Regions from separate parts of the Homo sapiens genome. Here all the other regions are reported to be linked to region 4. Evidence: microRNA targets listed by miRTarBase, many of them from high-throughput screens and not tested one by one. Region 4 holds a microRNA gene; each other region holds the end of a gene's coding sequence.

The links. Region 4 holds the annotated microRNA hsa-miR-124-3p (UAAGGCACGCGGUGAAUGCCAA, at 2,351-2,372, shown strand). A microRNA usually pairs through its seed, bases 2 to 8, with sites in the 3' UTR of a target mRNA and lowers its output. Matches are read on the target gene's strand: a 7mer-m8 pairs with bases 2 to 8, a 7mer-A1 pairs with bases 2 to 7 and ends in A, and an 8mer does both.
Region 1: miRTarBase lists DDIAS as a target of hsa-miR-124-3p. Seed matches in the 3' UTR shown: 7mer-m8 at 3,351-3,357.
Region 2: the mRNA of NGDN is a reported target of hsa-miR-124-3p. The part of its 3' UTR that is shown has no 7-base or 8-base seed match.
Region 3: miRTarBase lists SLC75A1 as a target of hsa-miR-124-3p. The part of its 3' UTR that is shown has no 7-base or 8-base seed match.
Region 5: the mRNA of IL11 is a reported target of hsa-miR-124-3p. Seed matches in the 3' UTR shown: 8mer at 3,477-3,484.
Region 6: miRTarBase lists NOL10 as a target of hsa-miR-124-3p. Seed matches in the 3' UTR shown: 7mer-m8 at 3,253-3,259.
Region 7: the mRNA of FAR1 is a reported target of hsa-miR-124-3p. Seed matches in the 3' UTR shown: 7mer-A1 at 1,059-1,065 and 7mer-m8 at 3,390-3,396.

The regions. Positions count from the first base shown.
Region 1 is chr11:82,933,430-82,937,828 of GRCh38, reverse strand. It overlaps DDIAS (DNA damage induced apoptosis suppressor), which reads right to left. Exons shown (of 6, transcript NM_145018.4): 6 at 3,170-4,399. The coding sequence ends at 3,494. Among named protein-coding and RNA genes, the nearest start is that of DDIAS, 34 kb to the right of the region's middle.
Region 2 is chr14:23,477,156-23,481,554 of GRCh38, forward strand. NGDN (neuroguidin) reads left to right here. Exons shown (of 11, transcript NM_001042635.2): 9 at 45-201; 10 at 348-405; 11 at 852-1,018. The coding sequence ends at 871. Among named protein-coding and RNA genes, the nearest start is that of NGDN, 9.7 kb to the left of the region's middle.
Region 3 is chr4:2,927,281-2,931,679 of GRCh38, reverse strand. It overlaps SLC75A1 (solute carrier family 75 member 1), which reads left to right. Exons shown (of 13, transcript NM_001146069.2): 9 at 17-125; 10 at 215-305; 11 at 406-453; 12 at 530-619; 13 at 727-1,113. The coding sequence ends at 842. It overlaps ADD1 (adducin 1), which reads right to left. Exons shown (of 16, transcript NM_001354761.2): 16 at 1,618-3,509. The coding sequence ends at 3,157. Among named protein-coding and RNA genes, the nearest start is that of SLC75A1, 5.3 kb to the left of the region's middle.
Region 4 is chr20:63,176,202-63,180,600 of GRCh38, forward strand. It overlaps MIR124-3 (microRNA 124-3), which reads left to right and starts at 2,299; the gene lies at 2,299-2,385. RefSeq lists an enhancer at 1,546-2,506 and a silencer at 2,794-3,083.
Region 5 is chr19:55,362,374-55,366,728 of GRCh38, forward strand. IL11 (interleukin 11) reads right to left here. Exons shown (of 5, transcript NM_000641.4): 5 at 2,009-3,804. The coding sequence ends at 3,634. GARIN5B (golgi associated RAB2 interactor family member 5B) reads right to left here and starts at 887. Exons shown (of 11, transcript NM_001145402.2): 1 at 544-887; 2 at 205-359; 3 at 1-130. The coding sequence starts at 693. RefSeq lists an enhancer at 694-1,298.
Region 6 is chr2:10,568,667-10,572,666 of GRCh38, forward strand. NOL10 (nucleolar protein 10) reads right to left here. Exons shown (of 21, transcript NM_024894.4): 21 at 2,088-3,524. The coding sequence ends at 3,405. Among named protein-coding and RNA genes, the nearest start is that of NOL10, 120 kb to the right of the region's middle.
Region 7 is chr11:13,728,057-13,732,455 of GRCh38, forward strand. FAR1 (fatty acyl-CoA reductase 1) reads left to right here. Exons shown (of 12, transcript NM_032228.6): 12 at 556-4,290. The coding sequence ends at 718. Among named protein-coding and RNA genes, the nearest start is that of LINC02548, 54 kb to the right of the region's middle.

The DNA.
Region 1 (4,399 bases), not on the chromosome of region 4:
CTGTGCATTGGCTCTCCCTGGTCTGTGAGGGTAGTGGCAGCTGTTATTTACCCTGTCTGCCTCCAGCCACTGACACCAGGAAGGTCACCCTTCCCCCTTCTGCAGGCCATGCCTATCTTCTCTGAGGCCTTTTAAGACTGTTGGTCCACAATGCCAGTGGGCACTTCCAATCAATGTCCTCTCATTTCCAGTTGATAGTGACACTGTGATTTCCAGATTAGGCGTTAAGCCATGCTGATGGAGGAATAGATATTCTTTGCACAAATGGAACCGCTCTTGTTGCTCCAACCACAGAGCAAGGATAGGCTCTTGCCTATCCTTCCAGGGTGCAGCCAACATTGAAAGAGATCACAGTATAGGAGTGCAGTAATTGCAGCCTAAAATGTTCAAAAGACTGCATGGTTGGGAAGCAATATTTAGTACAAATGGTAAATAGGACCAAAAAATGGATTATTATTTATTTTCCTGCACACTCTGGGTAGGACTTGCTTTTCGGTAGTCACCAGCAAAGTATAGTAACAACCTTTGAGAGATCATTGGAAACCAGTATTCACAGTAGCACAACGGATGCTGCATCACAGAGGAACTAGCATTAAACAAATGACATTAGGTAACTGCTAAGGCAAGATCTATATAGCTCAACAAAAACAGTTTCTGAAGTCATGACATTGTAAATACTAACAGCATCGTTACTCTTTTATCACAGAGGGAGGTATGAAATTAGCCAGGAATAGAACATCTGACAAAAAGAACACAGACTATTTCCTAGTCCCAAAGACTAGGAAACAGTCTAGAAAGAATTAAGAATCTTTGTATGAAATGATTGGACAATAAATATGCACCAGTTTTTTTGAGACAGGGTCGCCCAGGCTGGAATGCAGTGGCGCAATCTCAGTTCACTGCAAGCTGCACCTCTTGGGTGCACCTTAGCCTCCCAAGTAGCTGGGACTACAGGCGTGTGCCACCACACCTGGCTAATTTTTTGTAGAGATGAGGTTTTGCCATGTTGCCCAGGCTGGTCTTGAATTCCTAGACTCAAGCAAGCCTCCTGCCTCGGCCTCCCAAAGTGCTGGGATTACAGGCATAAGCTACCAGACGTGGCTTGTTTTTCTTTCCATAGGAAAAATAAAAATTCTTGAGTCTGTAGTGATAGAAGGAAAAGCAAACTAATTTACCACCACTGACTCTTTACTCTTAAAAAGGAAAAATAAAGTATATTTAACATCGAGATCCGGTGGGCAACATTTTAACCAAGCAATCTAACTTAGCATTACTAATAGTGGAACAACTTGATATTGTGTCTCCTCATGTGTTACAACATAAAGTACACAACATGAGCCATGGAATATCCCTGCCAAAACCTGAATCACATCTAGTCTTTAGGCCTAATTTTCAGGAAATGTGGGGACTGGGGTGGGGTAGAGAAACAATGTACTGATAGTATAAGGAAGCAAACATACCAGTCGAGAATGTGGGACATTCTACAGAACAGTGGTTTGAGGTTTTTTTTCCATAAAGTTACTATTATGTGAAATAAGAGGTGAGGTTCTAGAAAAAGAGACAAGCAAACACTATGGATGAACCTTGATGAAATTCTGGTTAAATAACAATTATAATTTGGGGACAAGTAGAAAAATTTGATTATGGGCTGAATATTAGATATTGGGGATTACTGTTATCTTTCCTTGGTGTGATAATGATACTGTGGCTATGTAGAGAGAAGCCTTTAAGAAAATTTGCACTGAAGAATTTAGGGGTGAAATGTCCTGTCTGCAGCTTACCTTTAAATGGTTTAGCAAAGCAAAACTGTATCTATTTAGACACACAGAAACCAAACACACACACACAAAGGCAAAATGTTTAAAATGATTGAATCTAAATGGTATGTACAGATACCGTATCATTCCGTATCATTGTGCTATTCTTTCAACTTTTTTTTTTTGAGACAGAGCCTCACTCTGTTGCCCAGGCTGGAGTGCAGTGGCAAGATCTTGACTCACTGCAACCTCCGCCTCCCAGGTTCAAGTGATTCTCGTGTCTCAGCCTCCTGAGTAGCTGGGATTACAGGCATGCATCACCATGCCTGGCTAATTTTTGTATTTTTAGTAGAGACAGGGTTTCACCGTGTTGGCCAGGCTGATCTCGAACTACTGACCTTAGGTGATTTGCCCACCTCGGCCTCCCAAAGTGTTGGGATTACAGGCATGAGCCACTGCGTCCGGCCGCTTTCAACTTTTCTGTTTGCAAATTTTCAAAATAAAAAATTGTGGAGAGGGAGAGACACAGTAGGGCAAGAAGGTGAAAATATAGGGGGAATATTTGGTATAAGACCTCAAAGATGGGTGTAATAGATCAATAGTCTAAATGGAAAGATTAGCACTTAGATGGTATTTTCTGAGACTAGAGGAAAGCAGCTGTGGGTGAGTACAGATAGACATGTGGGTAGGTATGGGTGCGAGAAGTTGAGAAAATATCAAGTGATCTCAATATTGTCCATGAAGTAGGAGGCAAGGAGAGTAGCAGTTGCTTTGTGGCATGAAGAAAGTATTGTTTTGGAATGGTTGCTGTGGGGAATGGCAAAGGAACCTGGCCAGGTATATGTGAAAGATTTCACAGGGTGCAGCAGAGCTGCTGCTAAGACTTGAGTGTCTGAAAATTGCTTTTCATTTTTGTTCCTGTTAGCACCCCAAGCTTACCTCCTATCATAGAACCTACCAGATTCTAATTACCTGATTATTCCAATAGCTCATGAGTTTGAGGGAAGGAGCTTGATTTTTATCTTCAGTTTCCAGCACTAAGCACGGCCCTTGGCATGTAGAGTAGGCATTCAGTGTATACGTATTAAATAAAATAGCAACAGTTTCACATACAACTTCTAAATAGCTTTTTTTCTTAAAACGTTTCTTCTTACCCTCAGCTCACTGATGAGTTAGCTGCTTTTCTTCCATGCTCTCATAGCAACGTAAATGTTTGTCATGCCCATTACAAACCCATATCATTGCATCTTCTGCACTGTATTGAAGTTACCTGTTTATCTGTCTTATCCAGCAGACTAACATATTTTAAGATCAGTGATCTTGTAGCTTTCTATCCCAAACTCAGCACACTCATTGGCCTATAATATAGCTGGCATTTTCTGGTCTGAGCTGAACAATTAAAAAAGACTAAGTTTTGGTTTGCAAAGTCTTTATTTCTGGATGTATATGTGATTTTAACAAACATTAATACTTTCAAAAACAATCTTAACAATATTATTAAAGTACAATAAACAGTATAAGATAAAGTGCTCAACTACCTAATCATAGTATTCTAGATAAAACCCTGGGGAAAACAATGGCTTTATATTTTAAAAGGCACAGTAGCTCCCAGCAGAGTCCTGTTTTCAATTTGCTTCTCTCCAAGTGTTCAAAATGTAAAGAATGCTTTCCGTACCCCTGAAGGCAAACATTTCCAAACAGATTTAAAAGTTCAGGAATTGGGTTCAGGTGACTTTTTATGAAAACAATTCAGGTGACCAAGCACTTCGAGTTTCACACACTGAAGGTGGGCCTTTTTCTGAAAATGGAAGGCAACATTTGACTTCTGAACAAGAATCAGGTCCAAGAATAGGGTGCAGCTGAGGTGCTGCTAAGACTTGAATGTCTGGACATTTGGAAATCCAGCCTGAACTTTTACAGTTATATTTATGAGTTTTCTTTTTCGTAACAACTGCTGCAAGCATATTCTTTAATTTCTTCTTAATTAAACCTTTATTGGTTCCTTGTCTAATATGTTTCAGTTTCTTTCTTGGTAACTCTTGTTGATCAGGGAAATGATAGGCAGCAAGGCATTTCCCTAGACCTATGCCTTGGAATCCAAGCATATCTGAAGGAAATATTTTTTGTGTGGTAGGAGGGACCCATTCATCACTATCAGTTTCATGGCACTCAGCAAAAGGGTAGTGATTGAAAACGTCTGGTTGTGAAACACCAGATACAATAGGGCTTCTGATTTTCTGGCTAGGTGTTTTTATATTTTTTGGACAGCTTGGGCTGGCTTGCTGTTTGTCATTTTCAGGGAAAATCCTTATTTTTTCATAGTTACCATCAAGATCTGAATAAAATACAGGTTTTTTGAAAGCTCTGTTTATCCCATGAATTCTTGTTTGGTGGAACCCTGAAATTGGAGTTGACTGTGAACATGGAACAAAGTCTTGACTATTTTCAAAATTATATTCTGAATCTGATTGAAAATGAGGTGTTGGAGAGCATGTTCTTGAATGCCTAGAGTCAGATAGGCTTTGCAAGGATAATTTTTGTGAAGGCTGGATGAAGTCTTCAGAAAGTGATCTCAGTGAAAAATCAGACTCTGAAGGGTGACTTTCTGCCAAAGATGTTCCCCATTTTAACAAAATATCCTG
Region 2 (4,399 bases), not on the chromosome of region 4:
ATCTCCATGGTCTGAGCCTGCTGGAAACTGTCTTTCTCTGGCAGGATTAACTATGAGGAGAGCATGATGGTGCGTTTGAGCGTCAGTAAGCGAGAGAAAGGACGGCGAAAACGAGCAAATGTCATGAGCTCACAACTTCATTCCCTTACACACTTCAGTGACATCAGTGCTTTGACAGGGGGAACTGTTCATCTTGATGAGGTGAGGTTGAGATATGGTTGTAGTAGGATGTGACTTTCATGCTTTCAGCAAAATGTATGTGGGGCTTATTACCATGAGGAACTTGGGAAGGGATGCTGGCTCTCAGAACCACAGTGCCATTCCATCACTTCTCCATCTGTCTCCAGGATCAGAATCCTATTAAGAAGCGGAAGAAGATACCTCAGAAAGGTCGGAAGAAAAAAGGTCAGTGAACTGCTGGGACTTAGGTGATCAGGTGCAAGGTGGGGAGTACAAATTGAGTCTCTTTGGATTTGCCATTCTGGGTCTCACCAAGCCCTGTAGTATCTCTTCCATACTGGGCAATAATCTCCTTAGGTGGGCTTTTATTTTTTGCTTTCCTGAGCTGGAAATCAGCATCATTCACAAAATGAATCTCTGGATTCTGCCTCTAAGGTCCCACAGCTCCTGTTCAGGCTTCCCTAAATAGAACTGGTAAAGTGTCACTTGAAGGAACCATTATCCCATTTCAATTTTATTCCTACTTCTCGTCTTTTGTCCTGGGAAGATATTCAGGGTACTGCCTAGGAGACCCCACCCCTGTGAGCCCTTCCCTCTAGATGTCCTGTTTTCCTGTCCCTTTAGCTTTTCCAACTGTCCTTTGCCTCATTCTTGGTTTCCCTTCCTTTCAGGTTTTCGGAGGCGGCGGTGATTATGGGTGTACATATTTGTATATTTTTTGTCATCCTGAGATACTTCTAATTTCATTGTATATAGGTGGTTTTCCCTGGAATTCATTAATTGTTTGCTTTGGACATGTGGAAAGAGCCTTACTAATAAAATTGATTTTGCTTATGAATTAAAGCCCCTTTTTGCACATGTATTGTACGACTGGAGTCGTTGGGTTTGGGATATTTTTGGTGAGTGGTTGGTGAAAAGGGAAATTTTTTTTGGAAGTGCAAAACATTTGTATTGTTTTCTTTGATAATATATTTTTCCCAAAAACTAAAAATTGGTTACGTCACAAAAAGTATTGAGAGACGAGGCTGGTATAATCAACTCTTTCAACCCATGTTGCCACAACTTCCTGTATGATTTGTTATAATACAATACAGATTGAGATATTAACACATGAATTTTAGGTTTTATTAGTGTTATCTGGGCTGGCCACCAGGTGGCATAAGTGGTTCAAGAAACTTGAGCTTGGCTGTAATCAAAAGCAAGATAGAACCTTTCCACATCAGCAAGATTATTCTTATCTCCACTTCTCTGAATGTTTTTCATTTCTTTCTGAAATAGCATGAACATAAGGCTGATCTTTGGTCAGTTACTGAGGGAGTTTGTAGAAAATAGTAGAGTGAGTAAGAAGGCTAGAGTGAAGAGTCAGTATAGTCTTGTGTTTTTCAGACTCTGACCCCCACCCCCCCGCCTTCAACTGAGGGTCATTTTACCAGAGTCAATAAAGGCCAACCCTTCTATAAAGAGCTGGCAAAAAAAAAAAAAAAAAAAAAATGCCAGCAGACAAGCAGAACATTCCTAGCTTAACAGCCAAACAAATGAAAATCCCACAGAAATAATTAGCCAAACTCAAGCCAGGAGACTGGTGGGCGTTATACATCTGAGATCTTGTATTCTAATGAGAGAATAACCTCTGTTGGTGAGATGTCCCACAGGCCTTGGATAATACAGAAAGTGAAAAAAGGGATTAAAAAAAGATAGAAGTTGGGTCTGTAGAATTAATTCATTGGAGTTTTTAAAAAAGGCTTTGGGTCTCATGAACATCTGATTTTAATGTCTAGTATTGCTGGGTTATATCGATAGACAAATTAATTTGGGTTATATGACTAAAACCTCGTTGATTCTGAATTTCTGAATTTGGATTTATACTATTCAGCCTGATTGGGGCAGGGGTCTTTCACTCAGCTGCCGCTTGGTAGAAAGTAGTTAGGAGACTGGACCTATGGCTGTCTTAGGCTAATTCTGTGATCTTGGGCAAATCACTTAATATCCCTGGCCTTTAATTTTCCTCAGCTAAGGAATGTATTAGACTTCATCTGTGAGATTCCCTTCAAGTCAAAGAGCCTAGAGCTTTTGTGCATGACACCAAGATGGGCTTATGTCTGGGGCCGCTAACCTTTAGTCCCTGATAGATCTGAGAGAGTCTCACATGCCCTGGGCTCTCATACTTCTGTTTCCTCAAGGGAATCTAAACAAAGAGCCACAAGAACAGATTTAGAGACTTTTTTTCCTTTATGGCTGAACTAACTAGATGAGTGATTCAGTTCAAAAATACTTTAGTTAAAACCACTTCATTTGCTTGTTAGGACCACTATATTTGTTTCTAATTTATTAAGATTTGTGGATTATGGGAACTTCCAGGGGAAGGGAAGTGCTCTTTAAAAAACAAAACAAAACAAAACAAAACAAAACAGGTACTACCTTCTGGCCAGGTGTGGTGGCTCATATCTATAATCTGGACACTTTGGGAGGCTGGGTCAGGAGGATAGTTTGAGGCCAGAGAGTTCAAGACCAGCATGTTTAACACAACAAGACCCTGTCTCTAAAAAAAAATAAAAATAAAAAAATTAGGCAGGTGTGGTGGCGTGTGTCTGTAGTCCCAGCTGCTTGGGAGACTGAGGCAGGGGTATTGCCTAAGCCCTGGAGTTTGAGCTTGCTGTGAGCTATGATCTTACCACTGCATTCCAGACTGAATGATAGTAAGACCCATCAAAAAAAAAAAAAAAATTCCTGTGCTATAGGCTGAGCTAAGTGCTTTATACTTAATCCTTATAAATTTTTTTTTTTTTTTTTGAGATGGAGTCTCACTCTGTTGCCCAGGCTGGAGTGCAGTGGCGTGATCTCCGCTGACTGCAACCTCTGCCTCCTGGGTTCAAGCGATTCTCCTGTCTCAGCCTCCTGAGTAGCTGGGACTATAGCCACGTGCCACCACACCTGGCTAATTTTTTGTATTTTAGTGGAGACAGGGTTTCACTGTGTTAGCCGGGATAGTCTCAATCTCCTGACCTCGTGATCCACCCACCTTGGCCTCCCAAAGTGCTGGGATTACAGGTATGAGCCACCACGCCTGGCAATCCTTATAAAATTTATGAAATCTCCATTTTACTAGTGAGGAAGCTTAGACACTTAGGGCAAACAATTTTTCCTGAGTTGGAGAACCAGTGCTTGGGGAACACTGAGGATGGAGGACTTCAAGTGTCCTGTGGTTCATGAAAATCTTCAGGGTTAAAAAATCTTTTTTTATTTGTAGGTGGTTTATAATCTAGCTCCCCCGCCCTACTGCCCCATTTCTGTTACAGGCCTCGTCTTCAAAGAAACCCTAAGTTCCACAATTCTGGTCTCTTTGTGGTATACCAGTGAACACAGCAGACAAAATCCCTGCCTTTGTGGACCTTATATTAATTCAATCAAGTCTTTAATCCCAGGACATTTTGTTTTCCCTGGCTTTTAGGCATTATTTGAAAGAAGTTTCTGGTAAAAAGTTGAACTATTTCTGAGAATATTTGTACCAGAGTCATCAAACACTGTTTAGAGTGTATTGTTTGATGGAGTATTACATGGATTCTCAATATGTAAAACAAGCATAAGTGGGGTTACTTTGATTGAAGTGGGAATGAGGGGTCCTGAAGTTCCATGTTCTTATGACCCCCTTTCCCCAAGATTCCTGAGGAGCCCCCAAGGAACCTTTAGAATTCCTTAGAATATAGTTTGAAAACAACTGTTAGGGTAGTAGAACAAGGGAACTAAGAACTAGAATTTTAGGATTTCGTTATGGCTGTTCTGGTCACTTTTTTTCTTTCCCTTATTCCTACTAATAGATTCAGTTATCTGATTATTCAGACCATATGAATATCGGATTTCCTCAGTGTATTGCTGACAACAGATCATTTCTGGTGTTCACTAAGTAATAGCTGTCATTAATGCACACATGAGCACCTTACCTGTTTGGTTTTATCATGTGATGGTTTTGTCATGTGATAGCTTTATTCTGTAGAAGTAATTTACATCTCTGCCTCATTCTTTTCATCTTAGGGGACAGGGAAGAGAGTTTGACCAAGGTCTGTCTTTGCCTTAAAATCATTGTTTTGTTAGGATTTTATGAAGGCTTGGGGAAATGTCTATTGGGAATTCACAACAGTCTTCATAGATACCTTATTAGGAAAACTGTGTTTTGTTTGCAGGGGAGATTATTAGTGTGTCAATTTTCAGCACCATGGAGAGT
Region 3 (4,399 bases), not on the chromosome of region 4:
ACACACCCGCTCCCAGCCTACAGCAGGGGAAGATGTTTTTCCTCATCGGCCTCACCATGGCCACCATCCAGGGTGCCTATGCCCGGCGGATCCACCCTGGCGGGGAAGTTGCTGCCGTGAAGCGGGTAGGGGGCTCCCTCCAAAGCGGGTGGCAGGCAGTCCCCTGAGTCCTGCAGGGCACGGGCTGTGCTGAGGCTGCCGTGCCCACCTGCAGGCCCTCCTGCTGCTGGTGCCCGCCTTCCTCCTCATCGGCTGGGGACGTTCTCTGCCCGTGCTGGGCCTGGGGCTGCTGCTCTACTCCTTTGGTGAGTGGCCCTGCCCTGGCAGGGGATCCGATGGGCAGCAGGGGCTGGGTGATGCACCCTCCCCTGGGCTGACGGGCACCTCCTCGATGTCTCCCACCAGCCGCCGCCGTTGTGGTGCCCTGCCTGTCCTCCGTGGTCGCTGGCTATGGTGAGCCCCCTTCCCTCGGCCGAAGCCACCTGAGCGGGAGAAGGGCAGTGGTGCCTGACTGTGCCTCTTCCCACAGGCTCACCAGGGCAGAAGGGCACGGTCATGGGTACACTGCGCAGCCTAGGTGCTCTGGCCAGGGCCGCGGGGCCCCTGGTGGCCGCTTCAGGTGAGGGCGCGGGATGGTGCTGGGGCAGGCTGGGGGCCAAGCACCTGCCCTCGCCTCCCAAGTGCCAGCCCCCTCGGGGACTGGGTGACGCCACCGTCTCTCCGCAGTGTACTGGCTGGCCGGGGCCCAGGCCTGCTTCACCACGTGGTCCGGGCTCTTTTTGCTCCCCTTCTTCCTCCTGCAGAAGCTGAGTTACCCGGCACAGACGCTCAAGGCTGAGTAGCTGAGCCACTGTGCCCAGGCTGTGGGCACCAGGCAGAGTGGGAGCCTAGGTCAGGCCCCTGCCCACTGCCTGACCCCCACCCCCCGCCAGTCCAGGGAGACCCTGTGGGTGGGGGCCGGCCCCTAAGCAGGAAGCTCAGGCAGCTCCTCCAGACTTACTTACTCCTTCAGTGACTCCGAGCTGCAGCACTCCAAGGCTGTCAGGGCTTCTGTTTGTTTTTTAAACTATGCACCAGGTTTCTGATGATGAAATAAAGCACCTGTTTGTTTTATACCAAGTGCCTTTCGCCATATATAGCCGTGCTTCTACCCACACCAGGAAAGGCAGCTGGAGCTGAATGAATGGCTCCACTGACCGGAAGGGTCCAAGGCTCTTTGAGACCCTCAGTTTCCCCCTCTGCACAGTGGCAGCCTGGGGACTCACTCAGGCAGGCTCCTCCAAGGCTGGGGTCAGCCCTGGCCAGGTGGTATCTGGCAGTGTGCCCCGCACCCTGGCAGGATGTCCCCAGCACAGAGCCCTCCCCATCAAACATGAGCACACAGTGACAGTGAGACTGGGACCATGGGGACAAGGACAGGCCAGCAGTTCCCTGGACACCCTGAGTTCCCGTGGAGAGGGACACCAGGAGTGCTGGGTGGCACGTCCTGCCGCACGCGTGGCTGCAGGTGACATTTTATCAAGACATGAACATTAGGAGGTCTCTTTTCAGCACGAGACAAACATGGGAACAAAGAAATTAAAATATAAAACTGCTTCCCAGATTTAGACAAGGAACTTGCTGAAAGAATTTTATTTGTGAGTAAAACATGTTACACTGGAGAAAGGACATTCAGGACCTGTCCTCCCAAGTCGGTGTCCATATATGCAACTATATTTCATGTTGTAATACAAAGGATTAAACTACAAAAGTGAAAATTAAAAGTCATTGCATATGTGGGGTAAAGGAGGGGATAAAGGAAGAGTCCACGGTTAAGGACTTTTCATTCTGCCTTGGCAACAAAACGACACAGAAGAGAGGCAGCACGCTTGCCCGCGTAGCAGGCCCTGCGGCTCAGAGGAAGCTGGAAGCGGCGGTCAGTGCCATGCAGCAGCCTGGTTCTCGCTCGGCTGGCCAATCAGTGGGATCCGAGGTGGCTCGGCCCATCATGCCCAGGATCTGAGCCCACATCTGGCACCAGCTCTACCAAGGGCCTGTTGGGCCCACACAAGCTTGCCTGTACCTAGTCAGGCTGGTACCGGCACCTCCTGAAATGGGTCACCCTCCGGTTCCTGCTCAGCAGCTCTGAGCCCTTTTCCAGCCTCTTGGAGGGAAGTAACAACAACAGCATCTGCCGAGGAGCACACGGTTCAGGCTCCATCAATGACGGTGATGTCGAGGGGCCCCAGGGCTACCCTCCACCTCGAGTTACCTTTGATCACAACTAGGGCATCTTTCTGGCTGAGTTAAGGTGAGAACAGTCCCCTGAAGCCTCCCCCAAATAAGTGAAAAGTGCTCTACTGTGGGGTCTGGAAAGAAGAAAGCAAAAAGCAGCCTATTCACGTTCACAGTCGAAAAATGTAAGCTAAATTGTAAACCTGCTCAAAGAAAATTCTAGAAAGGCCTCTTCCCCTCCTGATATACCTTCCCTATGACAGGAATCCAGAGACCCAAGTGAAAAAGAAACTGAGCTCCTGAATCTGATTCTGGTCGAGGGATCGTCGGTCAGACATGCATAGCATCACGTTGGGTGCACACAGGCCCATCTGCCGCTGGGGTTTCCTGCCCAGCATCTGGCCCAGACCTGCCTCTTCAAGGCCGCTGGTGGGCACACGAGTGTTTTCACGGGACCAAGGCTTTGTATATAGATTTAAGTGAGATCACTGAGCAGAGAGAATGCCACATGAAGCCAGGAGTCTGAGTCCGTCACCTGAGACTTTAGGGTGGAGGGGAAGCCAAGCAGAGACAGAATGTGGTGATTTCACAACAGGAGGGACGGCAGGAAAGGTGAGGCTCAGGAGGGTGACGTGCAGCCAAAGCTGCAGAAGCCTTCAGTACCTTCCAGCCAGGACCATGACTTAGTGCCTCCCCCCTGTGGGGAGAGCATGTCTCCCCCAGAAGCTGAGGCTCTGAGAGGACAAGGGGCAGGGTGGGGTGGGGCTGCTGAGCACACACTGGGTCAGCCCGGGGCTACACGGGGCTGGTCACGTGAGGGGACCTCTAGGCGGAGGGCTTGGCTTTTTTGCATTCCATTACACAAGGACAGAGCACAGACGTGGCCGGGGACGCTGGCAGAGCCAGGGTCGCTCCGGACAGGACAGTGTTAGCGCAGGGCTTTCAGGAGTCACTCTTCTTCTTGCTCTTCTTCAGAAAGGACGGGGTACGGAACTTCTTCTTCTTTTTGGACGGGGACTTGCCTGGAGACCCATCGCTGCCAGGGTCCGCGGCGGCCCCCTCCTCGACAGCTGAGGGGGCAGCCTCTTCAGCCACCGGGGCTGGGTCTGGGGCTGGCTCGGGGCTGGCCTCAGTAGGGGCCTCAGTGGGGCTTGGGGGTCTATGGGCTTCCTCCTCCTTCTCTAACATTGGGAAGCCGAGTGCTTCTGAAGGTTCATCAGGGGACAGATCGGGGAGAGTTGGCTTAAAGGTGGCAGCATCACTGTCATCTCCAGTAGTCGGCTCCGGCACAAGGTCTAGTGGGTGAGGTGAGAGATGGGATTAAGGGTTCCTGCCCAGATCTCAAAGGGCAGCTTGAGATGGGGGAGCCCCACACACGAAACTGCCATTTTATTTTACTCTACAGATTTTTACCAAGACAAGAAACTTAAAATATGGTCTACTCTACTGTACGGCTGGATGGAGCTAATATCATAAAATACAGACTCAGTCTCGGGGTAGTTTTTAGCTCCTTCTGGTGGGCAGTGTGCTGACAACACCAGACTCCGTCCCAGGCCTGGGTCCCCCCGCCGGAAAGACAGACTGCAGCACAAGCTGAGGACGACTAAAGGAGCGACGTCCCGCTTTCATTATGTGACGAGAAGTCTGCCCTGTCACCCTAAGGGCATGTACTAGTAGTACTGAAATTAAGTCTAAATTTGGGTCTACAACACCTGGTCTCCCCCAAAACAGCCAGTAGAAAATCGTGCATAACTCCCACAGCACGTTGTGTGACGTCAACATCCAAAAGAACAAAGCCGTTTAGGCTGGAAGTTAATTAAAAGGAAAGAGATGGCCTGTAAGGCAAGGAGTGGGGGCAAAAACTCCACCCAGCATCAGGAGTGGCCATCTGTGAAGGAGCACAGCGGCCCTGAGGACACAGCCTGGGGGCGCCTTCCTTGCACTTACCCGGGCACCCGCTCTGTCCATTCGTAAACGGCCTACAAAGTTACCAGCAACTGACAGGTTAGGCACCACAAGCTGTTTAGTGTTTAAAAATCAAGCCACACATCAGGGCCAGGGGAGTCAGCTGAGTGGTTAGGAGCAGCACAGGAGGCCCAGGCCCCAAACTCTCAGTGCTTTACCTTTGGGAAGCTGGAAGCACCCCCACCCTGCCAGCTGCCCCAGGCTAATTCCAGGCCACGCT
Region 4 (4,399 bases):
CTGGAGGCCAAGGGCAACTGTCTCCAATGAAGCGGGGCTGCTGCAGCCTGGCCTCCCCAGCCCTCCAGCCCCTCCAGCGTCCGGCTTGCACCTGCTGAGGCTGCCGGCACCCGCAGGCTTGGGGCAGCTTCCAGAGCTTTGCGCTTGGAACAGAAGGTTCCCCTTGGGCTGTGGAGGAGTAGAGGGCTTGTGCGTGACCTGTGAGAAAGAAAGATTGTCCCTGACACTTGCGAAGGGCGAGGAATTGCGGCTGGGAAGGGTCAGGTTGAAGCCGCACCAAAGGGGGAGGGGCGTCCTGATGGTTGAGGACCGGCGGAGTCGGTGCGGGCAGAACCAACCCGAGTTCCTGCCGCCCTTCCTAACCGGCTGTCCATGGGCTGGGCAGTGCTGGAGAGGGTGGAAAAGGAAGGAAGCAGGACCTGCTCCCAGGGAGGCCCAGGCTCTGCTCCGAGGGCAGATGGCGCAGGGGCTGGGTTGGCCCTAGGAGGAAGGAGATGGGGACAGAGGCCTGCCGGCCGCGCCGGCCTGCGCTCCTTGCAGTCTAAACAAAGGCCAGCGGGGGAGGCTCCGGACGGTGAGGCTTGGGGAAGCCACTGATCCCTGGCCCTAGAGGGCCAGATCGGGGGCGCCCCAAGGACCCTATCGAGCTGGCAGTGACTGCAGTCGGGCCGTGGAGTGTCGCCTGTGATTCCGTGGTCCCTACGGGCAAGAGCTCCCATCCCGGTCTGAAACTGTGAGAACCGCAAGCTCCGATGGGGGCGGGGAAGGACGACCTTTAATTCCCACCCCACTGTACGGAGCCCAGCAGGGCCATCCGCAGGAGGCCGGCGGGACCCTTGCCTTTCTCAGGACTGAGAGGCTTGGAGGACCGCGGTGTGAGCTGCGCGGCAGAGTGCGTTCTGCAGGCGCCAGACAGGAGACGCGAACCCGCGGTCAGGGCCCGAGTGCGGGTGCGTGTCTGCGGGTGCCGCTGGGCTGCGTGCCGGCGAGGCGTGCGCGTGGCGAGGCGTGCGCGTGGCGGGGTGTGGCTAGAGGTGTCAATGTGCAGCTGGAGGGGCTGCGCGCGTGGGTGCAGGAGGGCCATGTGAGGGGCTGGAGTGTGTGGGAGACAGGCGTTTCCTTGGGTCTCCGTGTGGCCGCCGGGCGCAGGGCACGGTCGAGGGCGCTCGATGGCTGAGTCCGCGTGAGCCGAGGAGCGCGCGGGGCGGGACGCGGTGCGAATGCGCGGGAGGCACGAGGCGCGCAGTGCGTGTGTGCGCGTGTGCGCGGCGCGCGTGCCCCGCAGTTCTCAAGGACACCTCGGGGAGGCAGCGGCGGGGCCGGTGTCCGGGTGACGTCACCGCGCGCCCCAGTGATAATCGGCCGGTGCCGGAGCGGAGCGCGGATACGCGCGGAGGCAACGGCGACGGCGGCGGCGGCGGCGGGCGCGGGGACAGTTGCATCGGGGCCGGGCCGGGCTAGCAGGAGCTGGGCGCCTGCAGCGTGGACCCCGTGGACACTCGGCTCGCAGCCGGCCTGCGGCGCTCGGGGACTTGCCTGGCTCCCTTCTCGGGGTTCCCGCGCCCTTCTCCGCCCAGGGCAGCAGCGCGCGGGGCCCCCGGGAGCCGAAGAGCAGGCGGGAACTGGCGGCGGCGCGGGAGGCGCAGGGAGCGGAGGCGGCAGCAGCGGCTCCCGCCGGGACTGGTAATTACGCTCGGGGCCGGGCCGGGGCGAGCCGGGCAAGCGGCCTCTCTGGGTCTCCCCGTCTTTCTCTCCACGAACAGCTCGAGCGCCTTCTCGCGGGCCCGCTGCGCGCGGAGAGGACGAGCTCGCTGGGTTGTAAAAAGAGACGAGTTTTCATCTTTGAGCATCGAGATTCGTTCTTTTAACCGCATTCGGTGCGCGCTCCTGGGTCGGCACGGGCAGGGCGACGGCAGGGGAAGGCAGCTGCGGAGGAGCTCGCGCCGCCCAGTCGGAGCGGTTCTGCGCCCCTCGGAGCCCCGCGGGAGGCGGCCGGGTGCGCACGCGCTCACCACCCCCACCCCCGGAATCCGTCTTCGCGATTCCCGGGCGCCCCAGCTCCAGGAACGCCCGGAGGGACGCACTTGGGGGCCCACTCTCTGCCGCGGAAAGGGGAGAAGTGTGGGCTCCTCCGAGTCGGGGGCGGACTGGGACAGCACAGTCGGCTGAGCGCAGCGCCCCCGCCCTGCCCGCCACGCGGCGAAGACGCCTGAGCGTTCGCGCCCCTCGGGCGAGGACCCCACGCAAGCCCGAGCCGGTCCCGACCCTGGCCCCGACGCTCGCCGCCCGCCCCAGCCCTGAGGGCCCCTCTGCGTGTTCACAGCGGACCTTGATTTAATGTCTATACAATTAAGGCACGCGGTGAATGCCAAGAGAGGCGCCTCCGCCGCTCCTTTCTCATGGAAATGGCCCGCGAGCCCGTCCGGCCCAGCGCCCCTCCCGCGGGAGGAAGGCGAGCCCGGCCCCCGGCGGCCATTCGCGCCGCGGACAAATCCGGCGAACAATGCGCCCGCCCAGAGTGCGGCCCAGCTGCCGGGCCGGGGATCTGGCCGCGGGACACAAAGGGGCCCGCACGCCTCTGGCGTCGCGGGGCGGGTGGGGGCGGCCGAGGGCGGCCGAGGGGGGAGCCTGCGGCCGGGGCCAGGCTGCGGCCAGCCGGCCCCCGGCCACGTGTGTCCGCAGCGCGGAGCGCCCAGGCGCCCGCAGAGGGCGGCGGGGCCCGGGAGACAAAGGGAGGGTCCACGGGGAGCGGCGGGCGGGTGCGTGGGGCGGCGGGCTAGGGTGCGGCGCTGTCCGCGGTGCTGGCGGCGGGGCGGCCCCCGCGGGACGGGAGGGCGGCCAAGTGCGGCCCTCGCCCCCACAGCGGGCGCCCTGGACAGTTGCCACGGCAACGTGGGAGGAGGTGGGGCAGGGTCTGAGGTCACCGCTAAGTCTGCCCTTCCTCGGGCCGCTGCGCCGCGGGGCGGGGCGGAGGCGGCGCTCGCTGTGGCCCCAGAGCAGCCCCCGCAGCCCAGGACCAGGCTTGCATGGGGACGGGGGTCTGCGTCCGCGTCCAGGGTCCAAACGAGGGCGGTGGACACGCCGGACCGCATCCCGCCCCCAAAGCCGGCTCTGGGCTGTGCAGGACCAGGCACGTGAGACTCCGCAGCCCAGGGAGAAAATGACAAATCCCTCCCCCGCCGCCATCTGCAGCCGCAGTGACACCCACTCGGGTTTGCTGCAGGGGTTTTTTTTCTGTCCCCGGAAGCCAGCGCCACCTGCTGACGCCCGGCACCGCCTCTGCGCCGCCTCCCCCGCGCCCATCCCAGGCCCCGGCTGGGCTGTGATGCCCCGGTAACAGTCAGAGGACGACCCCCTCCCCAAAAGCCCCCTTCCCCTGGGGCGAGTGCCAGACCTGGCTTTGCAGCTTTGCCTCTTTCCTCTTAACCAGGTAGAGGCTGAGCCTCTCCTCCCCGGCTTCAATCCGAGGCAGGAGTCTGAGTCACCTGAAGTTCTCCCAGCTCCAGGCCCAAGGCAGGGAGCAGAAGATCAGGATAAAAGGAACCATTTGAGTTTCAGGCAGTGGCATCTCCACCCCCACCACCGCCGCTGCAGGGCCACAAAGGGAACCTGCCTCTGCGGCTGTCCTCAGCACAGACCTCCAGCCCCTCCACCCAAGTCGCCTGCTGCAGACACAAGCAGGAGCCACTGGTGCCTCCATCTTCCCACCCCCACCCCAGTCAGCCAGGCAGAGTCAGAACACGGTCCACCAGTCTCCTCAGGGGCAGGTTCCCCCTGGAGGGCACAGAAGTGGCATAGGCAGCCCCAGCAAGCCCCGGCCTGACCACAACACTGACCCCGGGGCTTGGCGTCCCCTTCTTCCTTCCTCCCGCTGTGAGGGGACAGGCAGCATCCCCCAGGGGCACTTCTGGTCCTAGAGAAGGGGAAGGGGCCCCAGGATCGTTCCAGGACAACACCAAAGGGACTGGTGGGAGTGGGGTGTTCCTTCGGGGTACAAGATGTGGCCCTAGCCTAGCTGGAGCTTCCTCTTGGAGCTCTGACCTCCAGCCTGGCCCTTCCCTCGGAGGGAAGGTGGCCCCTGGCTGCTCCCTCCTCTGGGGCCAGAGATGGGGGCTGGGGCTTTGTTCTTGTACCACTTTCCTTCCTGGGGAGGGGACTTGGCTCCTAGCCAGAATGGACCTTCCATGTCAGTAGCCTGGGGAGGGGGACACTTGAGAGCTGGTGGGAGCGCATGGGCAAACTGCCCTTGGCACTGTCCCTAGACAGTCAGTCTCTGTGGGGTCTCCTAGGAAGAGCTTCCTGGACTCTGTCACGGTCAGGGAGCTACCTCTCCTGATGCCTGCCCCCAGTGGTGCACCTGGGCCCCAGCCCCCAGGGCAGACTTGTGGCTTCTGGGCTG
Region 5 (4,355 bases), not on the chromosome of region 4:
CAGGAAGCCCACCTCGTTGTCAGGGGCGTCCAGGGCCAGGTAGTACTGGCGGCCCGAGACCAGGCGCAGCTTCAGGCGCCAGGCAGAGAGGTCATGGACGCAGAGGTGGACGAGGTCCAGGGGGATCATCCTGGGAGAGGGAGAGGGGAGCGTCTAGAGCAGGAGGGGTGGAGGGGGCGGCCGAGGGGTTGGGGGATGCGGCACCTGGTCAGCACGAGGCCGGAGCAGTCCCTGTCCTCGGCGGGCTGGCCGATCAGCAAGATGTCAGGCAACACCAGGCCTGGCAGGGAGGCGGCCACGCCCATGGCCAGCCGGTTGGTTCTGTGATTCACGAACACTGGGCCCCCTTGATGGGTCACCTGGGGCAGCCAGGGAGAGGGGGCTGGGACCACTCCTTCCTCCAGCAGCCACAGCCTGAGCCTCCCTCCTGATCGTCCCCCACACAGTGACTGCTAAATCCCGTTCCCTCTCAAGATCCCCCAGCACGGGGGGCCTTGCTTCCCCTCTGTCCCTCTCAGCCCCGGGGCACTGGGAACTGGAGACCTGAACAAAGTTACTCTCGAACATGGGCAGCGGACGGAGGGGCAGGTACTCGCCCTTCTGGAGGGTCTTTTGCAGCTCCCCCAGAACAGGGACCCACTTCGGGGTGCCCTGGAGCGGCTCAAGGCACCTCCTGTTTCGAAGCCAGATCATGGTGGCTGTGGTGGATGGGTACTGGTTTAGGGACCCAGAACCCAGGCGTGCAGGCCTCCCAGCCCCGGCCCACCAGCCTTGACCCGTGGGGCTTCACGGGTGCCTGGAGCTCAGCGTTACAGAGCGTGGAGATGCCCCAGGCTGGGAGACTCGGGCCTCCGCCATGGCCCTGCCAGGGTGGACAGCAGGGGTCTGGGGGAGGAGCCTCTGGTGGAGGGGCTTTGTGACCTCATCGGACACACAGGGGCCTCTTCCAGGAACTCTCCGGGGACTGTGGGCTCCCTTCTCCTCCAGGGATACAGCCTGGAGTTTTTTGTTTGTTTGTTTGTTTTTTGTTTTTTGAGATGGAATTTCACTCTTGTTGCCCAGGCAGTGAGCTTAGATTGCCACACTGCACTCCAGCCTAGGCAACAGAGCGAGACTCCATCGCAAAAACAAACAGCCCTATGCAGTGCGGGGCCCCAGGCGAGGCTCAGACCCTGCCTCCACGGAGGAGGCACGATCACCCAGACAGCTCTGTGGAGGCAGGGTCTGAGCCTCGCCTGGGGCCCCGCACTGCCTAGGGCTGTTTGTGATGTGATCTCGGCTCACCGCAACCCCCGTCTCCTGGGTTCGAGCGATTCTCCTGCCTCAGCCTTCCGAGTAGCTGGATTGTATTTTTAGTAGAGACAGGGTTTCTCCATGTTGGTCAGGCTGGCCTTGAACTCCTGACCTCAAGTGATCCACCCGCCTCAGCCTCCCAAAGTGCTGGGATTACAGGCGTGAGCCACCGCGCCCAGCCAGCCTGGAGTCTTGAGGGCTATGATGGGTGAATCAAAACTCCGGGCCCAGGATGGGCACCTCCAACCCCAGACTCAAACTAGTGACGACACGGGGCCCCTGGAAGTCTGTCTGGGTTATTGTAAAGGGAAAAGTAACTAAAGCATTTGAATTATCATCCCTACTCTGCCATTGACCCTTCTCTAGGCCCTGGGTAAGACCCAAATCCTTACTGAACCTGTTTCTCCATATCTCATGTGTGTGCATGTGGCGAGGATTCCTCAACACCGACTTGCAAAGAGAGCTTTGGGAAAGAGCCAGACACGGCGCAGAATCCCACTTCCACCTCTCCCTAGCTGTGTGACTTTGTGCAACAGAGTCCCCACTCCTTGTCTGAGACTCAGTTTCCCTCGCCTGTAAAACAGGGCGTATTCAAGAGTCCAGGAGGATTGTGTAAGTAAAAAGCCCACACTTAGTGCACAGCCCTGACAGGCTCAATCAGCGGTCAACTTTGTCCCCTCCTGAGGGCTTATTTTTGGAGAGGAGGAGGCTGATATTCTGTTATTCTAAAAATAGTGTTTATTATTTTTAAAATGTGTCATGCAAAATACACAGTCATGGCAGAAATTCTGTAAAATACAGACAATCATACACATTAAAAGTCACCCACAATCCCACCTCTCTCCTTTGACCTGGAGACAGTCATTGTCAACATTTTGGCGTATTTCCCTTTAGGATTTTTGTTTTAATCCATATATAGAAAGAAAAACACAAAATTGGGATCACAGCATGCAGTGGTTTTGTAGCCTGCTGTTTCATGTCAGGACATCATTCTTTCTTTTTTGAGACAGGGTTTTGCCATGTCTCGCAGGCCGGTCTCGAACTCTTGGACTTCAGTGATCCACTCGCTTCGTCCTCCCAAAGTGCCAGGATTACAGGCGTGAGCCACCATGCCTGGCCAATGTCAGGATATCTTTCTATATCCCAAGCAAGCCTCTCTCCTTAGCCTCCCTGAATGACAGTCCCTGCTCCGGGCGGCTGGGTGGCGTTCTATCCACAGATGCACCATGTTGCTTAACCCTCACTGTTGGATATCTAGATTGTTTCCAGTTTGCTATGGTGAACACAGCCATAATGAACCATCTTGACCTTGCAGCTTTGTCCCATACGGGTACTGTTGATCACAGGGTGACTTGTGGAACCTTCCATTAAATATTTATTGAAGACCTATGGGTCAGGTGTGGTGGCTCACACCTGTAATCCCAGCACTTTGGGAGGCCGAGGCAGGAGGATCACCTGAGGTCAGGAGTTCGAAACCAGCCTGGCCAACATGGTGAAACCCTGTCTCTACTAAAAATACAAAAGAAATAAATAATTAGCTGGGCATGGTGGTGCACACCTGTGATCCCAGCTAATCGGGAGGCTGAGGCAGGAGAATTGCTTGAACCCGGGAGGTGGAGGTTGCAGTGACCTCAGATTGCCTCACTGCACTCCAGCCTAGGCAACAGAGCGAGACTCCATCTCAAAAAACAAACAAAAGGCCCTATGCAGTGCGGGGCCCCAGGCAAGGCTCAGACCCTGCCTCCACAGAGCTGTCTGGGTGACCGACCCATCTCCCAGTCGCTGCCCCGCCCACTCGGGACCTCCACCTGAATGGAGGTCTCCCCTCCACCTGCCCTGCCCCAGTTACCCAAGCATCCAGCCCCAGCTCTCAGACAAATCGCCCTCAAGTGGATATGTATGACACATTTAATTCCCTGTTCTCTGTCTCACAAAGGTTTCTCACATTTTTGTACAAAAACCCAGGCTTCCCTTTCCCCTCCGTCCCCACCCCAACATGAAAAGTAATTGCTTAAATAAATAATATATGTTCCTGCCCAGGCCTAGATGGGGAAGAGCCAGGGCAGAAGTCTGTGGACAGACTTCTTGGAGACCCAAGAATCCGGGACCCCAGTCCCCTCCTCCTCGGGGACCCAGGAGTCCACCTGCCTCCCACCCCTGCTCCTGAAATAAATAAGTATAAATAAGGCACAGATGCCCCCCAGGCCTCACGGAAGGACTGTCTCTAACTAGGGGGAGATAATGGCGGGGGGATCACCTGGCTGTTTCGCCCCCAGTACTGAAATAAATAAATAAATAAGATCTGGCTTTGGAAGGACGGTGGTGGCTTTGGGCCCCGGGTCACAGCCGAGTCTTCAGCAGCAGCAGTCCCCTCACGGCCCAGTCAAGTGTCAGGTGCAGCCCCCCCAGGATGGCGTGGGCGGCCCTGATGCCCCCCCAGGCTGAGGAGGGGGGCGCCAGCGGGGGCGCCGGCGGGTCCGGGGGTGGCTGGGGCAGGGCCAGGCGGGACATCTGTGGGGAGAGGAGAGAGGTGAGTCACAGGTAGGGGGTGCAGCGGGGGTGCAGGGCAGGGGTGCTGTGGAGCTGCAGCTGAATCGGGGCTGCATATTCACAGGGGGACTGTGGCGCGTGGGGTGAAGTGTTTAGGCCGGGAGCTCTTCAGGCTGTGGGGTTCCGAAAATGGAGGCTGGAGTCAGGACGGGCTTCCAGAGCTGAGTGTGGGGGTTGGGGGTGAAGTCTGTGGAGTCAGGGCTGGCATCTCGGTTCTAGGTGAGGGATCGGGCCTGGGACTGTTAGAGTCGCCGGGGCTGGAATCTCAGAGCTGGGTTTTTGTTGTTGTGGCTGCTGTTAGAACAATTAAGAAGCCAGGCGCGGGGGCTCACGCCTGTTATCCCAGCGCTTTGGGAGGCCGAGGCGGGCGGATGGCCTGAGCTCAGGAGTTTGTGACCAGCCTGGGCAACACGGTGAAACCCTGTGTCTACTAAAATACAAAAAAATTATCCGGGTGTGGCAGTGTGCACCTGAAGTCCCAGCTACTCAGGAGGCTGAGGCAGGAGAATCGC
Region 6 (4,000 bases), not on the chromosome of region 4:
CAAGACCAAACAGGATCCCCCATCACGTCCCTCCCAGCCATGTTCCCCCCTCTCTCCAAAGCCACCATTATCCTAACTGCTGAGCACAAACTTGGAAACAAATAAACAAACTTGGGCCTTAGGTCTGGGGTGTCAGAGGCTGAGGGGATCTGGAGCAGGGGAAGGGGAGAAATGGCAGCCCAGGAACCCCCAGCTCAGTCCCGCTGTAAAAGCCATGCCCTCGGGGCCCCATCTGTGAGGAAATGCTTCTCGCACTGGCTCATGAACACCCCCAGCTGTGCGTGCCTGGGACAGAGACCCATGGGAAATGGCCATTTCCTAGGACTAGTGAGTAGTATATCACACACACGGAAAAATTATGGAGTAGAGTATGAAAGCTGAATAAAACTTGGAAACAGGAAACTTCGAAGACATGAAGGATTAGAGCAGGCACGCTGGGAATCAGCCCTGAAGAGGCAGGCCTGCGTTAAGGGCTGAATCGGTAGGAAAACTGGGGCAATGAGGGACGGGTCAGGCCTAGGAGGAGTACCCATATAGCTGTCGTCAGCGGACACTCCTTCTGTGTCCCTCAGACTCAGGGCAGTCCCTCCGCCTGCCCTTCAGCAACTCTCCAGAACAAAAGCCGAGGTCACCTCCCCTGCTCTTGAAAACCCTCAATGGTCAAGAAGCTTTGTCAAATCCTCATGAGCCTTGCACAGTGCCAGGTGCTGTACCTAATGTAAGTGCCTCATTTTACTCTAATAAAAACTAAGTATTAGGCTGATCTACAGGAGGAAATGAGATTCACAGAGATTAAGGCAACAGTCAAAAGACACAGAACTAGTAGGCAACAGACCTGGAATTCGACCCTGTGTCAGGGTGGTTCCAAATGCAAGCTCTTTCTACTAAACTGCCAGCCTCCCAGGTGCCCAGAAGTGATCCTGGCCCTCCTCCTCTACCCTGATGTCCTGACCTCCTGGTGTGCTGACAGTGCTGGGTGAACAGAGAGCACCGCTGCCTGTGGAATCTGGCCCTGCGGAATACCGGCTCCCCACAGAACCAGGAGGCCCTTCAAGAAGGAAGGAAAAGAGGGGCCTGGGAAAGCCAGGAGTAGACGTGACAGACCCTGACGTCAGGAAACAGGCCAAGGGCATAAACACCCAACCCCTGGGGACATTCCAGCCAGCAAAATGTCCCTCTCTAAATTTTTAAAACCCCCCATCCCTGAGGGAGGCAGCGTAGAAACAGAGAAGAGAAGGCAACAGGAAGCTGCAGCCACTTCCTTTGAGAAGAGGTGGACAGTGAGCAAGAGTTTAGGGGGAAAGAAGCTGAAAAAGGACAGTACCGGTCCAGGGGTTGGAACAGCTGGAGGACTCCCTGGTACCACAGCACAAATGGGGCTGGGTGCCCCAGGAACAAGAACATACACACATACCCCACCTTCCACACACCTTTTTTCTGTAAACAGACCTCATTTCTCGGACCACAGAAGTGGACACATGGCTGAGCTGTTCCCTGCCTTGGGAACAAGCCAATCTGCACAGAAGCAGAAGCAGCACAGAGAGCAGAGGCAGGGGGACGGGAAACACATAGGGAAAAGACAGCAGGGGAGGCCTGAAGAGAGAAGGAACAATGGTGAGACAGGAGGAGGAAGGGAGGGAGTAGGGGAAGGAGAGAGAGAGAAAGAGGGAAACAGAGATAGAGTGCGCATGTGCTAGCTGACTGACCGTGGAGCCATGGATCTAGGTGTTCCTGAGGCCAGTTCCATGTCCCAAGCATGGTGATGTAAATTAATGCATTCTGCCTCTCGGCTTATGCTATTCGAAATTAGGCTGTATCATTCACAGTCCAAAGAGTTACTATTTCAGTTGTATATAAAGAACCTTAAAAATCTATAAAGGCACCTCCAAAATCACATCAAAGCTGGAAAAACTAAGGAAACCAAAGTTGGTTCTCTTCTTTCTTTTTTTGAGACGCAGGTCTTGCTCTGTCGTCCAGGCTGGCCTCGACTTCTCAGGCTCAAGCAACCCACCTCAGCCTCAGTAGCTGGGACTACAAGTGCACACCACCGTTTGACTAATGAAAAAAAAATTTTCTTGGAGTCTTTCTCAAAGAAGCTATTCAAATGAAAGTATATTTATTTTTATAAATGTTTCCTCCAGTAAGTTTATGTTTGACTGTACTTAAGAAACAGGAAAAAAAAAAAACCTGTAATTAAACTTGTGCCAAGATTAACCAACAGCCTCTACTGCTTGTTTCCCATTATTACAGGTTGGGTATCCCTTATCTGAAATGCTTGGGACCAGAAGTCTTTTAGACTTTGGTTTTTTTGTGTGTTTTGGAATATCTGTATTATATTTACTAGTCAAGTATCCCAAATCTGAAAATCCAAAACCTGAAAAGCTCTAATGAGCATTTTCCTCCAATGTCATGTCAGTGCTTGATATGGTTTTGCTCTGTGTCCCCACACAAATCTCATGTCAAATTGTAATCTTCGGTGTTGGAGGAGGGGCCTGGAGGGAGGTGACTGAAACATGGGGGCAGACTTCCCCCTTGCTATTCTGTGTTAGTGAGTTCTTGGAGATCTGGTGTTTGAAAGTGTGCAGCATCTGCCCCTTTGCCCTCCTCCTCTGGCTCTAGCCACGCAGGACATACCTGCTTCCGCTTCACCTTCTGCCACGATTGTAAGCTTCCCAGGGCCTCCACAGCCATGCTTCCTGTACCACCTGTAGAACTGTGAGTCAATTAAACCTCTTTTCTTTACTTATAAATTACCCAGTTTCAGGTAGTTCTTTATAGCAGTGCAAGAACAGATAAATACAGTGCTCAAACAGTTTTAGATTTTCGGATTTGGGATGCTCTCAACCTGCACCATTAGATTATACTCTCTTGGTATAAATTATTTAAAAACAAATCCCAAACTAATACATAAACAAGCCGAACAAACCTATCAGCATAAACTTATAAACACAAACACAGGCAATACACAGACACCAGGTAAAACAGGGATGGTATTTCTGGATGGTTTAATCATGAATGGCGGTAGGCAGTGTAAGAAAAAAGTTCCTAGAGCATGATAAACCTTGGTTTCTGGCACAGGATAAACCTTTCATTTCATGGTGTACATTTCACAATATTAAAAAAACCCCAGCCTGGTTTTCATGATTAACGCCGTGGGGAAAGGACAATGTTTCCAGGGAGCAACGACTCGCAAGCACACCCCTGGGGCTGTGCGGTGGCCGTCGGCGGGGCCAGCTTCAAAGTCCAACCCACAAGGCACAGGTTTTCAAATCTTTACCTCTGTGTACAAGAACGTACATGAACTTTAAAAACGTGTGTTTCCTCGTCTGTGTTTAACACCCTAACGATGATCAGTTTGGGGGAGACGTACCCCTCCCTAATCACAGGTAGGACCACTTCCCAAATCAATGAAACGACCGTCCTCTTTTGTGTCTTGACTTCAGGTGTCCGGCCGAACGACGGAGTCTTTTCCTTTCTTGTCGATGCAGTTTCTCAGCCTCCTGTTGCTTCTTCTGCTGTTCAGACTAAAAGAGAAAATGAAATGAGTAGAGGGAAAGAGAGAAAATTCTATACCTCTTTTCTGGTAACCGTCAGGCTGCCAACAGTACCACCACCAATCTCAGAACTGCTGCCAGGAGAAATGCTGCCCACAGGCTCCAGGGGACATGGTGGGGCTGCCTGGACTCTGCTCTGACAAATGCTACCCTGGCAGAAACAGCAGGACCAAGGCCAACTTTTACCATCAATGCAAAAGCAGAAATTCTGAACCCCAGGCAAGAGAAGGGCCCTGACAGACCAGCCTCCTACAAAGTAGGAGACTGGTTTTTCAACCAACACACTCACACAACCACTGGGATGTTTTAAAAGAGCCTACACAAGAGCCACCTTAAGAAGATGATATCACTTAGAGTGTCCACTTCCTTTTAGAGATCTTTGTTTACAAACTAGAGCCATTAGTTTATTCCCACTGTTTTTAAAAACAAAAAATACTTAAATGTAC
Region 7 (4,399 bases), not on the chromosome of region 4:
TGCCGTCCTATCTTGCACTGCCTGCTGAGGTCAGTATAATTTATGTAACATTATTACATCTCTAAAGGTTTGTATTTCTTTCAAACACCATCAGAAACATCAAAATTTTTTGAAACATGAGCTGAAACATGAGAGTAACATATTGTTACTCTTTGAGAAAAGGGAGGATCCTCCTTTATCAAGTTAATGCCATGTTTTATGCTTGGATAAGGGCTTATCCACTTGGCCTTTGATCTTGTGACTGTCACCTGTAACTGAAAGAGTAAGTTACTTGTCTGACAACTTGTAAGCAACTAAAGATGTCAAAAAAAAAGTTTGCTCTATTTTGTCTGTACTGTGATGTATGTAATGAATGAACCTTTTTAGATTAGATGGGAAGCTCTAGAAATTCAAGGTACATATCTGTTTTACCTACAGTATACTTAATGCCTATCATAAGTTTCAAATTAATATGGATTTGAGCTTTGATTAAAAACTCAGTATTAATTAGCTGCCATCTAACAATATTTTTTTCTAGAAAATACTGTCTAACATATCTCTTGATTTGCTTTCCAGGTTGCGGAATATACGTTATGGTTTTAATACTATCCTTGTGATCCTCATCTGGCGCATTTTTATTGCAAGATCACAAATGGCAAGAAATATCTGGTACTTTGTGGTTAGTCTGTGTTACAAGTTTTTGTCATACTTCCGAGCATCCAGCACTATGAGATACTGAAGACCAAGGATTCAGCATTAGAACATCTATACATATGGTGATCTAAATGTACAAAATGTAAAATGTATAAGTCATCTCACTTTTTGTCAAGACATTAAACCATCTTAGATCGGAGTGTGAAGTAAATTATGGTATATTTTATGTAACATTTTAATGTTTATGCTCATAAAACTTAGTGAACACACTGTGTTATGCCAGCTCAAATCTACAGTAGCCACCAAAACCATGACTTAATATTTTGAGCCCTAGAAGAAAGGGGTGTGCTGAGGACAAGAGTGGGGAAATAGGAACACTGACCAGTATAACTGTGCAATTCTGGAACATATTAATTAAAATAATATGCCTTAACATATAGTGAATTTCTAATTCTAATGTTCAGTGCAATGGAAGACATTTATTTGGACAGTAATACTAGCAAAGTTGGTAGATATTTGATTCTTCATTTTTTGTTTTTTTCATTAGTTGAAGTGGGTTTTAGTTTTGTTTAAAATTATAACCAGCGTATTTTCACATCATTCTGTAAGTTAAATGATATCAAACATGAAAGAGATGTTCTCATTTTTCTTTTTCTGATTAAACGTCTGATGCATATCATTTTTCTATAAGTAATCAGTTGCTTTTAAAATCAGAAGGCTATATTATTCTAATGACCCTATTCGATCTAAATGGGTTTGAGAATCCATATCAGCAACATACGTGTTTTTTGACAGAAAGTGAAAACAAATTCCGTAAAACTGTTAGTATCAAAAAGAATAGGAATACAGTTTTCTTTTCCACATTATGATCAAATAAAAATCTTGTGAGATTGTTTATGTTTTGAAGCAGGAGGATTTCTTGAGATTTGATGGAAGTGGGAGTTGGGAAGGATTCACCATACTTGTGTTCTCCTCCCTTTATAAATTTTATTCATAGGACTTTTAAAAGGCTTGTGCTATCTTTCCAGTGAAAACTGAAAGTGCATTATTATGGAAGAATGTATTTGCAGGTAGTAATAGCATTAAAAAATATACTCGTGTGTAAACACATACTAATTTTGACCTTGAAAGATGAATTCCTTCAAGAAAAATAAAATAATGCTTAAGATAATGTGTACGAAATTAAATAAAGGACTTTATTTACATACTACATAAGGTAGCAAACTGTTGAATGAGTTTGAAGGTATCACTTATTTTTTATGCATGTGATTTTAGCTTTAGAAAGAAATGCGTTATAGAAACAAGTAATAGCAAGAAAATTGATGTATATTTTAATGATACATTAAAATTCCCTTTTAATCATAATAGTTAACTCTACTTACTGTTTTAACATACATTTGATTTAACAAATTGTTCAGCATAACACTTCTAATTAAGTTTATCAAGTTGTACTGTATTAGATAATCAGCAGTGTATCTGGAGTATGTTTAAAGAGAACAGTTCGCAATACAAAAAGTTACATGGAGCTTTACATCTTAACTTTCTTTGTCAATTTAAATGCAATGTATAAAAAGTTTATTTTGCTATTGTGAAAAACTAAATGTAAAGGAAATCACCTACTTTCATGCAGGTGTATAATCTTGAAAAGGAAAAATGCTTCCATGTTGAAGCCAGATTTTCTGTAGTAAAACTTTTAAATATTATTTTAAAAGAAATATGTATATAAATATCTCTATATTCTTTGGAATGATACTAAAGTCTCTGGTCTAGGACCATACCTTATATAAAGGTATAAGAGACCATGACAATGTCTGAAAATGGAATAGATAATGATGCCTTTTATTTAAAGTGGCCCACATAATATACATTGAGTACTCCATCTCTCCAAATGTATTTCCATAATGTGTTGAAAACATGCTAACATTTGTATGATTTTTATACTTCTGCCGAATAGACTTAGAATCAGATGAATTGTCTGTGTGTCTTGCAAAAGAGTTGGGGACAACTTGGGCAGGCCTATGAAGTGCATAGGGAGTGTATGTCTTCTGAATGGTTTTATTGTTCTTGTAATCTAGCTTAAAGAAATGTTAACTGGGAGGGTGCTGAGGCCACTCACTGCATTAATTTTGTGTGTTTAGAGTTCTGTTGTCAAAAGAAAACTAATGAATAAATTAGTTTGTCATTCTAGAATTTAAAGTTCTAAGATTAGTATAAAGAGTATATAGATTGTTAATCCCCACCAGCTAGACTTTGAACTTAAGTCAGACTTAAAGATTTGAGAAATTATTTGTGTCATTTACTAGACGTGATTTTTAGTTCTGTTTGATTATATTTCCTACACAAACTTCTTATTTAACAGGATAGCCTACTAAATTAAATGTTTCTTATTTCACTTAACTCATTTGATTAAACTGTATTCTAAAACATTTGGGGTTTTTCCCCCTATTCAGTTTTAATCTTGGAATATGCATTTGTAAATTGTGATGTCATTGAGACTATATTTATATTTGACTTGGCAACATTAACATGTCCTAAGACTTAGTGCAGAGAAGCTTGGCAGTACGTTCTTTGACTTAAGGATGGCATAAAATAATCATTTTTGAACCTGTGTAATAAAGCTTGAAAGCAGGGAAAAGAATTTCCTTTTCCCCCTTTTTTGTGTTGTCTATAGGAATTAACTTGGGATTGTTTTGTGGGTTTTTGTTTGTTTTAAATGTAAATTGAGAATCTTTTATAAGAAATAAAAGCATTATTGGGTGCCTTTGTTTGTAAACCAAAAAGTAATAAATGAATCCCTATATTTCCATTATAGTATTTATTGTATTTTTATGTTCTGAAAATTACCCATGGAACAATATGCTTAGGATTACAGGAAGCAGTCCTTACTTACACTTCTTGTCTGTTTTAGGTGTACTTGTTAATTCTTATGTCCTAATTTTATTTAATTCTGAGTTCCTTACACAGCATTTTAGGGAAAGAATACAGGCAGGATGACACTTTGTGTTAAAGTGTTATTTTTATGTATTACCTGGAATGAGGCAGGTTTTTTTCTGTTTTCTAAAAAGAGTAACCAAGATACCTCCAGGGTGTCATTGGGTTCCAGCTGCTCTCCTCCACATTGAATGATATCTTGTTAATTTATAGGCACATTTGTGGTAATTTATATGTCTATAGAGTAAGTATAAGAGATAATTCATTAGTAATAGGAATTAACTGACCCCTTTTGGATGGGGGAGAGCATCAGGCTGGGGTCAGGTAAGTGTAAATGGCCTTCTGAGCATGCTCTTCTAGGCTGACTCCCAGCCCTGACTTGAAACCATTAGCGCTAACTTGCTCTGTTTTGAGAAAAACTTTCCAAACTTTTGCATGAGAAACTAGAAAAAGGAATGTATGCCACGTAACTGGATTACAGAAATGAGTTAATTGTCTCTGTGATAAAAAAAAAAAATGAAATATTTTCTTATTGAATTAATATTTTTGTCTTGAAGCATTTTCTAGTGATAGAATGTATTTGTCTTTTTTCCTGGTGGTACCCTCTTAGCATATATCTTTGCTATCCTTAAGATCCTAAACAAATCATCTTTGTCAGTTAAGTATAGTTGCGCAAAAATTGTTAAATCCTTTGTCTTTATTAAAGAAAAATTTGAGTAACATTAAGTTTGATGTGCTCCTTTGCAAGTTGATGTCTCTAAAATTCATTTATTTAGAAAAACATGAAGTGGTAAGTATAAGTTTAATGTCTTTACCGTGGGCCTGAACTCAGAGA